3 separate regions of the Homo sapiens genome follow, and regions 2 and 3 are each linked to region 1. Evidence: fine-mapped expression QTL. A gene starts in region 1. Each other region holds a variant in brackets. All regions are shown on one strand. Distances are from middle to middle. Region 1 holds the start of COL23A1 (collagen type XXIII alpha 1 chain). Region 2 overlaps COL23A1 (collagen type XXIII alpha 1 chain). Region 3 overlaps COL23A1 (collagen type XXIII alpha 1 chain).

The links. PIP is the estimated chance that this variant, and not a neighbour inherited with it, causes the effect. A credible set is the group of variants that fine-mapping cannot tell apart.
Region 2: its variant is the best candidate, but not a certain one, in a credible set for the expression of COL23A1 in putamen (GTEx, PIP 0.81).
Region 3: its variant is the best candidate, but not a certain one, in a credible set for the expression of COL23A1 in cerebellum (GTEx, PIP 0.75).

Annotation. Positions count from the first base shown.
Region 1 is chr5:178,587,882-178,592,153 of GRCh38, forward strand. It overlaps COL23A1 (collagen type XXIII alpha 1 chain), which reads right to left and starts at 2,512. Exons shown (of 29, transcript NM_173465.4): 1 at 2,023-2,512. The coding sequence starts at 2,316. RefSeq lists an enhancer at 958-1,858 and a silencer at 2,514-2,713.
Region 2 is chr5:178,354,696-178,358,838 of GRCh38, forward strand. All of the region lies in intron 2 of COL23A1 (collagen type XXIII alpha 1 chain), which reads right to left. Among named protein-coding and RNA genes, the nearest start is that of PHYKPL, 120 kb to the left of the region's middle. The variant T/A (reference allele first, on the strand shown) is at 2,067.
Region 3 is chr5:178,390,752-178,395,023 of GRCh38, forward strand. All of the region lies in intron 2 of COL23A1 (collagen type XXIII alpha 1 chain), which reads right to left. Among named protein-coding and RNA genes, the nearest start is that of PHYKPL, 160 kb to the left of the region's middle. The variant T/C (reference allele first, on the strand shown) is at 2,382.

The DNA.
Region 1 (4,272 bases):
AGAGAAGCTGTCTCACAGGGGCCACCCAAACAACCAGAAGTTCAGCCCCAACTGCATTCATACTGCACCATCTCTGACTCTCCACTGGCGGGAAAACCCAGCCAGCTTACACTCCACGCACAGCATGCGCCTCAGATACCCAGCTGGGATTAGCGAGCAGGACCACGTGTGAATGGCACGGCAAATTCTCCAGAATACAGGGTTCCCTGGATTCTAAATTTTTCTCTTGCCTTTCTAATCAAGAACAGAGAGAGAGAGAGAACACACACCCTGTCCAATAACTCATTGTTCAAGCACTGTAGTTCACCCAGGTAAAATTCAGTGCAGCCGGGAGGGGGGAAGCCTGGGAGAGCAACTGCAGTCTCTCCCGCTGAAGTTCAGGACTCAAAAATCAACACTTCCCAGCAGTGGCTGCCTGCCCAGGATGCCCCTCCCTCCTAAAATAGACACAATTTGTAGTTCCTTGTAAAATGGTTGTATCAGGACTTCTGATTTACTCAATCAGGGCTTGCGGTTTATTTTTAGCAAATAAGAGAGGCCTCCTATGAGAAAGAGCAGCCACACTTATAGCGCTAACAGGTAGAAACTTTACTGGCCCTCTATAAATCAATTCAACACCCTGGTCTCCAGGCATTTGCCAAAAGCTAATGGGCGGCAATTATGAAACCATCGCCAGGAGTTTCCAGCAGGGCTGAGAGAGAGTTTTAAGTCTGCAGGCCCTTTCAAGGGTAAAATAGGAAATCATTTCATGAAGCAGCAATTTTACCCAGAACCCAGCTAGAAGAGATGTGATCCTAGCTTAAATTAAAGTGACTAAGAAACAGGTGGGGTGAACAAGGAGGTGTGGTACGCAAGTCATCTTCTCCCACTTTCCTTTGGAATCCAAAGGAACTCAACATTGGAAACACAGCTGGATACGTTAATAAAGATCCCAGCTGGGCAGTCTAGGGAATTGGGGGTGTACAGGCCAGTGCTCCCTCTCCTCCACCTTGAAACCCTGCCTGTTTTCACACAGCAATTGAGGATGCGCCCTTGGACAGCGACCTTGGGGTCTGGAGCAGCCATCTATCCCAGGAGAAGGAGGAAGGCTCGGCAGGGGAGGCTCTGGCCAGCCCACCAGGGCCTGTCCAGTTTCGTGGGGAGGGGAACTGCCGCACATGCCGCACACAAAAGGCGGAGGCTTTGACCAACATGCTGGGTGAGGGCTTGGAGGACCCAAAGGTGGCTCTTTCTTTGAAGACACACAGCAGCAATCTTAACCCTTAGAAGTGTCACAGAGCCTCATATGAGCTTTCAAGTAAGCTGTGGAAGTCGCGATTCCCAGGTAAGGGACGGGAAACTCCGGATGTCCTGCGAGCCCACACCCCAGATGGCACCGCCTGAAACCAGAATCCAGGTCCTCCACCCCCGATTGTTTCTCCTTCCTCTCATCTTACCAAGTCATGTGGGCGCCCCCACCCCCATCCCCGAGGCCTCAGTGCGACGGTGACCGCTCAGTCTTGGGGCCTGAGCTGCTGGAGACACACTGGAGCACAGCGGGGCCCAGCCCTCGGGCCTGTCTGAGGCTTTCCTCCGCCGTGACCACCGCCTCTCCAGGTGTACCAGCGTTGGTTAGGAACAGTAGGTGCTACTGGTCACAGTCACCAGATACTTCCCACGAGCCTCATCTTTATCCCCGACTCTGGCCGCCGGCGGGAAGCGGCGTGTCCGAGCGCACACCCCGTGGAGACTGACCCTAGGTCTGTTACTCCAAAGTCCCTGGTCTCTCCTTCCCCTTTCTCGCGGCCGCCTGCCTGGCACGGGACCCTGAGGCCGGAGCGGAGACCGCAAAACCCCTTGGGGCCGGCACCCCCTGCCTCCGCCTTGGCGCAGACGTGCCCATCTCTGGGACGGCCCCGAGCGCACGCAGCCGGCGGGCGACCCTCCTCCCAGAGACCTGCACGCTGCCCCCGGCTCCCAGCGTACCGCCACCCTCAACCCGACACACCCAAGTCCGCCCCAGCCACGCGCCAAGACGCTCACCTCCCGCAGCAGGCGCTCCAGGTGCGGCTCGGCCCAGGCGTCCAGGGCGCCTGGCGGCCCCGCGCGCCGCAGCAGCTCCCGCTCCTCCTCGAGCGCCGCCACCCGGCCCTGCAGCGCGGCCGCCTGGACACCCAGCAGCAGGCAGGCAGCCGCCGAGCCCACGGAGAGCAGCAGGCACAGCGCGCTCACCGCCCGGGACCCGGCCGTCGTCGCCGAGCGCCCTCCGCCGCCGCCGCCCGCCGCATTGCCCTTCCCCGCGTCGCCGCCGCCACCGGCGCGCTCGCCTGGGCCCATGGCGCGTTCGTCGCGCGTGGACTCTCCGAGGGGGCGGTGCTGCTGGGGCAGAGGCTGGGTGCGAGAGGAGCAGGCGGGACAGCCCGAGGCACGAGGTCCGCCGGGCGCGGGGGTTAGCCTCCGGGTAGCAGCGGATCGCCGCGCACGCCCCCTTCGCCGCAGCCAGCTCCTCCACAGCGGCCACTTTGGGCAGTTTCCTCTATGCAAATAGACCCTGCCAGAAAAGGAGCAGGGACCCACCCAGGGGAGGAGCGGCCGGGCTGGCCCCGCGCGGCGAGGGGGCGGGGGCGAGGAAGGAGCGAGCTCCTCGGAGCCACCCGTCGGCGCCGGGCTGATCCCACGCGCAGCGCGCACCTCTGCCCTCACCTAGCCCGGGCGCCGGCACCCGCCCCCGCACGCACCTCTGAGGCTTCCCCAGCCCAAGCCCGCACTGTGGACCCCAGAGGTCGGAGGGGAGCCCGGCGACACCGCGCCCCTTCTGCAGCCCACCCCTGGCTGGAGCACCCACCACTCGTGCCTTAGCACATTCCTCTAAACTTGTGAATTACCTTTCTGACACTTGTAAAAGTTCAAAACTTCAAATCCTGCAAAAAACTGAGTGGGTCTGTCCTCGGTGGTGGATTAGCGCCGCTTCGTGGCGGAAAGCGACCTCTGCGCACTCACATTTAGAGAGGCAGGGTCGAGATTGCGCCAAACAGAAATACGCCCCTTAGAATCTTCTCACGAGTTCTTAGCTGCCGGACTTCGGTGCGGGAAACAAAAATGGTAAGACTGTTTCTGGCCTGGAGAGGGCTTTTGAGAAAACTGAGACTATAACGAATGGGAAAGATTCAGAAAATGAACTTCAAGTCTTGTTCAACTGATGACTTAATTCTGTATTAGACGCACAACTTGGCCAAAAATTATGATCTAGTATGCACCACACTTAACCTGTACTGCGATTCTGCTGCAAATTTAAATCACAGGGCTGAGGCAAGAAGGCTGTGGCGTACAGCCTGGGTCCAGAGAACAGAATGAGTGGCACTAACAAGTCTTGGCAGGAAAGGGAAGAACTGCTGGAAGTCAGGCTGGGTTCAGATTCCTACCAGGCATATTCATGTCCTAAATGGGTCCCAAGTAACTCTTTCGCTAACTCCTGTAATACCTAAATGAAACAACAAACCAGCAGTTCAGATCTTTGTGATTTGAGTAACCCCCCAACCATTTTTTTTTAAGAAAAATAACGTTATATCCATCTTCCCTCTCACTCTGGATATCTTCTGGTTGTCTCATTTCTGTGGATACTCACCTTTTAGAACTGTTGAGTGCCTCTGGCTAACATGTTCCATCTCCTTCCCTTAATTCAGAGGGGAACCCCTGAGATGGCCGGGGGTTATGGTTGATAGACTTGGCTCTGTGCTAAAGTCTGGTGTATGCCCAATAGAATGAAAAGTTGGCCTCATTCTGAAAAGAGGCCAACACCCTCTTACAAGTCAGCACTACATTTCTTACAGGCACATAAACTGCACACCACCTACCTATGTTAATGTTACTGCATGTATTGTTTGCCATGTTCCTGAAGCTTCTGTGTATTGAAAAAGCCAAGCTCACTGGCCCCTGGGCCTCTGCCCTTGCCTACCACCTCACTACCTGCATTCCTGCTCTCAGATCGTTAAACGGCAAGCCCCTCCTCATCCTCCAGGTCAAGGTCCTCAACCTCACTGCTTCTAAAAGATCTTCCCAGACTGCCCAATTTAAGGTGGCCCACAAGATTAATCAGGGAATTGGGGCGGCTGAATTAAGATGGAAATACTGTCTGCAACTCATTCTAAAAGGCGAAAAAGAAAATGACTTACTTGTGTCCATTAGGGTCCTGGAAGAATAGATGGCATCCTCAGAGAGGGTGACTCAAGACAGCCTGAATGTAGAGCCACTTCACAAAGTGGAGATCAGAGGGGCCAGCAGGGGAGGCCGAAG
Region 2 (4,143 bases), 230 kb before region 1:
GGCCTCCCCAGAAGCAGAAGCCACTATGCTTCCCGTACAGACTGTGAAAACGCGAGCCAATTAAACCCTCTTTTCTTTAGGTTGGGTGTGGTGGCTCATGCCTGTAATCCTAGCACTTTGGGAGGCCGAGGCAGATGGATTGCCTGAGCTCAGGAGTTCGAAACCAGCCTGGGCAATACGGTGAAACCCCGTCTCTAGTAAAAATACAAAAAATTAGTTGGGCATGGTGGTGTGAGCCTGTGGTCCCAGCTACTCGGGAGGCTGAAGCAGGAGAATCGCTTGAAACCGGGAGGCGGAGGTTGCAGTGAGTGGAGATCATAGCACCGTACTCCAGCCTGGGAGACAGGTGAGACTTTGTCTCAAAAAAAAAAAAAAATGGATTTTTAAAATGCAGAATAGTAACTGTTTACATAGCATTTACATCATATTAGGCATTATAAGTAATCTAGAGATGACTTAAAGCATATGGAGGATGTGTATTGGTTATATGCAAATACTACACATTTTACCAGGAATTCAAGGCTGCAGTGAGCTAGGATCACACCACTGCTCTCCAGTCTGGGCCACAAAGAACCTCAAATAAAATAAGATAAATAAAATAAATAAACAAGCATTTTATATCAAGGACTTGAGCAGTCCAGATTTGGGTATCTGCAGGGGGGTCCTGGAGCCAATCCCCCATGGATATTAAGGCACAACGCTATACAGATATGGAAACATTAAGTCATACATCTAAAATAGATGCAGTTTTCCAGCCTGGGTTACATAGTATATTAGTCTGTTCTCGCATTGCTATAAAGAACTACCGAAGGCTGAGTAATTTATAAAGAAAAGAGGTTTGTTTTTATTTTTTTGGAGACAGAGTCTTGCTCTGTTGCCCAGGCTGGAGTGCAGTGGTGCGATCTCGGCTCACTGCAACCGCCGCCTCCTGGGTTCAAACAATTCTCCTGCCTCAGCCTCCCGAGTAGCTGGGACCACAGGCTCACGCCGCCAAGGATGTTAGCCAGAATGGTCTCCATCTCCTGACCTCATGATCCGCCCGCCTCGGCCTCCCAAAGTGCTGGGAATACAGGCTTGTTTGTATTTTTTTCTGAATTTTTTTTGATCTGTGTTTAGCTGAATCCACAGATGCAGAGCTGCAGGTTCAGAGGGCTGACTGCGTATTGCGAAATGATTGACAGCACTGAGCTAGTGAACATGTTCACCAACTTGTGCAGTGATTATACCACTTGAATGTTGAGTGAGCAAATATCTTACCTATTAAAATTAATACAGTAAAATAAAAAGACTGAGGCAGATTTCTATTTCCTGATATGGGATGATTTCCAAGATTTCTTGAAGTATAAAACGCAAGGTGCTGAGCACGCTGCAGCATGGATGAAGCTTGAAATGGTGCTCAGTGACAGACGCAGGCACAGAAGACCCCAGGCTTAGGGCCCCACTCTAAGAAATGTCCAGAATAGGCAAAGCCACAGAGACGGGAAGCAGAGGAGTGGCCGCCTGGGGTTGCGGAGGGGAGGAGGACAGCCAATGGGTACAGGACTTCTTTTAGGGTGACGATCATGGTCTAAAGTTGATTGTGATGCTGGCTGCACAATTCTGAACACACTGAAAACCACGAGTGGTGCACTTTAAACAGCTGGAGTCTGCGGTCTGTGAACTGTATATCAATAAAGCTGTTATGAAAAAAGGCAAGGCGCAGCACAGGGGGTAAAGCATTCCACAGCTTGTTTAAAAGAGGGGGCATTTGTTTGAGGTATGTCTGGGGAGAACCAGAAGACACCAGGATCGACTGCCTCAGGAGAGGGGCCTGAGCCCTGGAGGCAGGGGTGGGAGGAGGCATTCTGCCTCAGGAATGCATTCCTTCTTCCCAGAAAGAGAAAGGCAGGGTGCAAAGGGTTAAGGGAGAGAAGGCGAGACACAGGAAAAAAAAGGCAAAGGAAAGCAAAAGTCAGCGCCTCCCCAGTCCCCACATTAAAGTAGCCATTGCCGCCGGAGCAGAGCCGGCTTGGCTGCCTGAGGAGGAGGCACGCGCCAAACCCAGCAGAGTGATGCCTGGGCAGGAG[T/A]TACGCACCCTCCCCCGGCCGCCTGGCACCGAGATTGGCTATGCAGCAGGAGGAGATGCCAGGGCTCCGAGCCTCAGGAACCCTGGTGCTGGTCCCCACTGCAACCCCCTGGGGTCTGCGCACTGAGCCTCTCCAACCCAGCACACCCGTGCCCACCTCTCCAGATAATTAGAGATGCTGCATAAAAAAAAGTCTAACACAAAGCCTGACGCTCGTGGATGCTCAACAAAAGTTAGGCTGGCCTTTTCCAAACAGTGCTTCGAGTCAAATGCAAGTATTGTCTAAAGTCTGCAGAAGAAAGGAAAATGAACGGAGCTAAAGATGTACTTCCCTTTACTCGATGCTGTTCTCCTGTTCCCTTCTGTTCTTTCAGTATCTAATTGCATTAAGCACGGGTTCCCTCCCTGGTGACCTGGGGCTTCCCAGCAGGAAGTGACCTTGAGGGCGCCTGCCCAGTGACCTGCTTTCTGAAGTGCCGGGTAGTGCATCCCCTCAGATGGTGACCTCCTTCCCTTCTCACAGGCTTCTGGTCTGTCCACGCCCTCAGGAGAATGCCTTTTCTGTGAGCCGGCGGAAGTGCCTCTGCCCCCTGGGGTCGGGGGGTCAGCTTGGCTGCAGGGCTGGGGCCGCACAGCCTCGACTCAGAGAACTCACAATGAAATCAGGCCGGGCATGCAGGCTCTTGCTGGGAACAGCACACTGGGGAACTGTGCGCCTTTGAGGTTTTAACCGTCCGCTGGGGAAACAAGTGAGTTCTTTGAAGGAAAACATATTTTGGAATCTGCTCTGAATGATACCAAGAGGCAGGCGGCCTCCAGGGGCCAGCCTTTGACTCTAGGCTGATGGGTATCACCCTTGCTTTCACATGTTTGTCCCAAATATAAAGGAATTTACCCATCAGCTGAAATTTTCAGTTGTTATTTTGCTTAATGTCAGGTCAGATTTAAAATGTGTGTATGTGTGTGTGTGTGTGTGTATGTACGTGTATGTGTGTGTGTACGTGTATGTATGTGTGTATGTGTATGTGTGTGTGTATGTGTGTGTGTATGTGTGTATGTGTGTTTATGTGTATGTGTGTGTATGTCTAATGTGTATGTGTATGTATATGTGTGTGCATGTGTACGTGTGTGTGTATGTGTGTCTAATGTGTGTGTATGTGTATGTGTGTATGTGTATGTATGTGTGTGTATGTATATGTGTGTATGTGTATGTGTATATATGTGTGTATGCGTGTGTGTATATGTATGTGTGTGTATGTGTGTGTATGCGTATGTGTATGTGTATGTATGTCTAATGTATGTGTATTGTGTGTATGTGTATGTACGTGTGTAGGTCTAATGTGTGTGTATGTGTATGTGTACGTGTGTACGTCTAATGTGTGTGTATGTGTATGTGTGTATGTCTAATGTGTATGTGTATGTATGTGTATGTGTGTGCATGTGTACGTGTGTATGTGTGTCTAATGTGTGTATGTGTGTATGTGTATGTGTGTGTATGTATATGTGTGTATATGTGTGTATGCGTGTGCGTATATGTATGTATGTATGTGTGTGTATGTGTATGTGTATGTATGTCTAATGTGTGTATTGTGTGTATGTGTATGTGTACGTGTGTATGTCTAATGTGTGTATGTGTATGTGTATGTGTGTATGTGTATGTGTGTGTATGTGTATGTGTGTATGTGTGTATATGTATGCGTATGTGTATGTGCGTATGCGTATATATGTGTGTGTATGCGTGTATATGTGTGTATGTGTGTATGTATGTCTAGTGTGTGTATGTGTGTGTATGTGTACGTGTGTATGTCTAATGTGTATGTGTATGTGTGTGTATGTGTATGTGTGTATGCGTGTATGTATGTGTGTATGTGTCTAGTGTGTGTGTGTATGTGTACGTGTGTATGTGTCTAATGTGTATGTGTATGTGTGTGTATGTATGTGTATGTGTGTATGTGTGTATGTGTATGTGTGTATGTGTATCTGTGTGTGTATCTGTGTGTGTGTATGTGTGTGTATGTGTATGTGTGTAAACATGATATACCCATGTGTGATTTGTATATAAGCCCCCACTCATATAA
Region 3 (4,272 bases), 200 kb before region 1:
CCCTGCCTCACACCATATGTAGAAATTAACTCCAGGTGGATCAGACTTACATGTAAGACTTAAAACTATCAAACTCTTAGAAGAAAACATAGGTGTAAATCTTCATGATCTTGGTATTAGGCAGTAGTGTGTTAATATGACACCGAAAGCATAAGCAACCAAAGGAGCAATAGATAAACTGGATTTCAAAACAAATAAACTTTTGTGCCTTAAAACAGGGGCCCCAACCCCTGGGCTGTGGACCAGTTTGTGGCCTGTTAGGAACCGGGCCTCACAGCAGGAGGTGAGTGGCAGGACAGTGAGCATTACCGCCTGAGCTCCACCTTCTGTCAGATCAGCAGCGGCATCAGATTCTCATAGGAGCATGAACCCTATTGTGAACTATGCATGCAAGGCATCCAGGCTGTGCACTCCTTATGAGAATCTAATGCCTCCAAAACCATCATCCTTCCACCCTTGTCTGTGGAAAAATTGTTTTCCACGAAACCAGTCCATGGCACCAAAAAGGTTGGAGACCACTGCTTTAAAAGATACCGTGAAGAAAAGGAAAAAGATAAGCCATGGAATGGCAGAAAATATTTGCAAATCATATATCCGATAAGGGACCTGTAACTATAATACGTAAAGGATTCTTACAAGTCAACAATAAAAAGACAAATAGGCAGAGGATGTCAATGGACCTTTCTCCAAAGAAGATAAACAAATAGTTACTAAGCACATGAAGACATAGGAAACGTCATTAGACAGCAGGGAAATGCAAATTAAAGCCACGATAAAGTACCACTTCACTCCCACTAGGATGGCCAGAATAAAAGAGTCAGACAGTCAAAAATGTTGGTGAGGATGGGGGGAAACTGGAACCCTCATCCATAGCTGGTGGGAATGTAAAAAATGCTGCAGCAGCTTTGGAAGACAGTCTGGCAGGTGCTCAAATGGCTTCACACAGACTGCCATACGATCTAGTAATTCTGCTCCTATTTACCCAAGAGAAATGAAACATCTGTCCATACAAACACTTGTACGCCCATGTTCACAGCAACATTATTAAAAATGGCCCAAAAGTCCAAGTATCCAAATGTCCACCAGCTGATCAATGGATAAATAAAATGTGGTATATTCATACAATGAAACATTATTTGAGACTAAAAGGAATGAAGTACTGACACCGGGATGAACATGCAGGAATCTTGAAAACATTACGCTAAGTGAAAGAAGCCAGACACAGAAAGTCACGTATTATATGATCCTATTTATATGAAATGTCTGGAATAGGGAAATCTGTAGAGACAGAAAGTAGATTAGTGGTTGCTGCGGGCTGGGGGCTTTGAGGGGAAATGATGGGTGGCTAGTAATAGGAGTGTCTGCTATTTTTTTTTTTTTTTTTTGGTTGATGAATTGTTCCAAAATTTATTGTGGTGTTGGTTGCACTACTCTGTGAGTATAATAAAAACCACTGACTTCTGCACTTTACATGGGTAAACTGTATAGTGAGTTATATCCTAAGATTGTTATAAAGCAAAAGCAATCTGAATGGCTGAGCCCGCACGGACGCAGCATCACAATCTGCCCTGGGTGTCCTCGGAGCACACTCACCTTATTTATATCTTTCAAACAATGCACCTACTGCATTCCCATCTTTCTTCTAAAATGTTAAAGAAACTGCATCTACAAGACACATCTTCAAACAGAAACACAAAAACCTTACAACGAAACAGGGCTGCACAGAAGGCCACGCCACCTCCAGAATTGCCCTGGCTAACTGTCAGGACAGCAGCAATGTTTTATCCACACAGAAGCACAAAGGGACAGAAACTGTGTTCTCTGCCTTCTTACTGAGACACGAGGCCACAGGAAGTCCACTCAGGATGGCAGGGTCCAGCGGACAATGGTCCCTGCTGCCACCCTCAGCCTAAATTCGGCTCCCAAATGTATCACGCTACCCCATGGCCGGCTCAGCTTTTCACCACTTGCAAATGTAATAGTGAGACCCCTCCTACCAATAGCCACATTGTTACCTGAAGATTGACAGTTCAACAGAAAATGCCACATTAGAAGAGGAGGCCTCAGGAAGAACAAGACCCAACGTGGCCAAGCAAGAAAAGGAGAAAGGAGACCTAAGAGTGTGCCAGCGCTGAAGAGAAACACCTTGGAGGTGTCTGACAGCAGTACCACTGTTAGTGCAACTCCTCACCAGTACAGAACGCCCTCCCTCACTGGGTGCTCAAAACCACCTGCTCAGCCATCTGCATTTTGCAGAGAGACTCAGGCAGGACAAGAGCCCAAGGACCCACAGCGGGTGCCTGGCAGAAAAGCAGCTCAAGCTCAGGCCTTCGAACTCCCAACCGTGCATTGTTGCCGAAGTAAACGATTTGTTGCATGCA[T/C]ATAAAACATCTGGCTCGAGAGATGGCCCTGGCAGGGAGCATTAGCCTTAAATGGAATAGTTTTCAGCCTTAAAAAGGAAGGAAATTCTGACACATGCGACAGCACGGATGGACCTTGAGGATGTTACGCTAAATGAAAGAAGCCACAAAGAAGAAGTCACGGAAGGACAAATGCTGGATGAGCCAAGCCAGGGTACTCCAAGTCATAAAGATGGGAAGTAAATGGTGGGTGCCAGGGCTGTGGGGAGGAGGAATGGGGAGTTATGGCTTAATGGGTGCAGAGTTTTCGTTCTGCAAGATGTAAACAGTTCTGATGATGGTTGCACAACAACGTGAATATACTTAATGCCACTGAACTGTACACTTAAAAATGGTTAAGATGGTACATTTTATGTTATGTATGTTTTACTACAATAAAAAAATTTCCCTGGCACCATTCAGATCATGTGAGACCAGCTCCCAATGCATGTGGAAGGAAATTGATAAAAATCATCAATCAAGACTCTCTTCCCTCTTTTCCTTTTTTTTTTTTTTCCAGACAGGGTCTTGCTGTGTCACCCAGGCGCAATCTCTGCTCACTGCAACCTCCACCTCCCGGGCTCAAGCGATTTTTCTGCCTCAGCCTCCCAAGTAACTGGGACTACAGGTGTGCACCACCACGCCTGGCTAATTTTTGTACAGATGGGGTTTCACCATGTTGTCCAGGCTGGTTTCAAACTCCTAACCTCAAGTAATCCACCTGCTTTGGCCTCCCAAAGTGCTGGGATTATAGGTGTGAGCTACCAAGCCTGGCTTCTTCCCTCTTTTCAACTGATTTTCCAAGGGTGCCAAGGAGTGGGGAGGACCCACCCCAACCCTGCCCACCAGGTGCCCTGACAGAAGGATGGGACATAACCCCTTGGTCCCAAGGAAGCAGGTGCTCAGTGTGGCCACAGACTATCAAACCTGGAGCGAAAGACCTGGGAGGGCAGGAGGAAGGGAAGCTTCAGGGAGGAAGCAGAGGCAGGACAGGCAAGGAGGAGGCCCAGGGCTCCAGCACAGGCAGAGCATACAGTCACTATCTGCACCTGTCCTGCCCTGCAGGCCTGGAGCCTCCTGAGGGCAGGTCCGGTACAGGTTTAACCCATGCCCTGATGCTCAGTCAGCCCAGAGGCTGGCACAGAACAGTGCCTGCCACACACTGGGTGAGTCAACCCTGAGCCCTCAACTCGGAGCCACTCCCAGCTGGAGAACACCTGCTAGGCTGCATAGGGCCTGCAGCCCCACCCCAGGAATGCAGAGGCAGCCCCACCAGCCCTCTCTCAGCTCACTCCCTGAAGATCTCCAAGGAAGACAACTGTATTGACAGCACGGGGTACTTTTCCTGCTCCAAGAAATTAACTCATTTCAAAAGCCACGATGTTCCGGCCTCAACATGGTGTTCACAGCTAAACTGTGTGGCCTGAAGGTTCACATCTTTGGGTAAACTGAAAATCATCCTTAGCTAGCATTTGGCTGCAAGTTCAGCCTCCTGGTTCCTGAGTCCACCCTGACACGCAGAGGGGACTGCTGATGGTCTGACTCCCATCTGCTACACATGGGGAAACTGAGGCCCAGAGAGATGGTATGCCTCCCCAGGGTCACAAGTGGGACATAGCAGGGCTAGAATTACAAGGCCCTGGGTCTCGGGCAAGGGCTGAGGGGAATTAGTTGAGCTAATTAGTCATGCTAAGCAGCATTCGGCTCTCAGCTCCAAACGTCCAGGCTTGGTTCCGGCCCCGGCTGTCCTCCGAGAGTCTCTCCCCGGCGGGCAGGCGCTCTGGGCATTCGGCTCTCAGCTCCAAACGTCCAGGCTTGGTTCCGGCCCCGGCCGTCCTCCGAGAGTCTCTCCCCGGCGGGCAGGCGCTCTGGG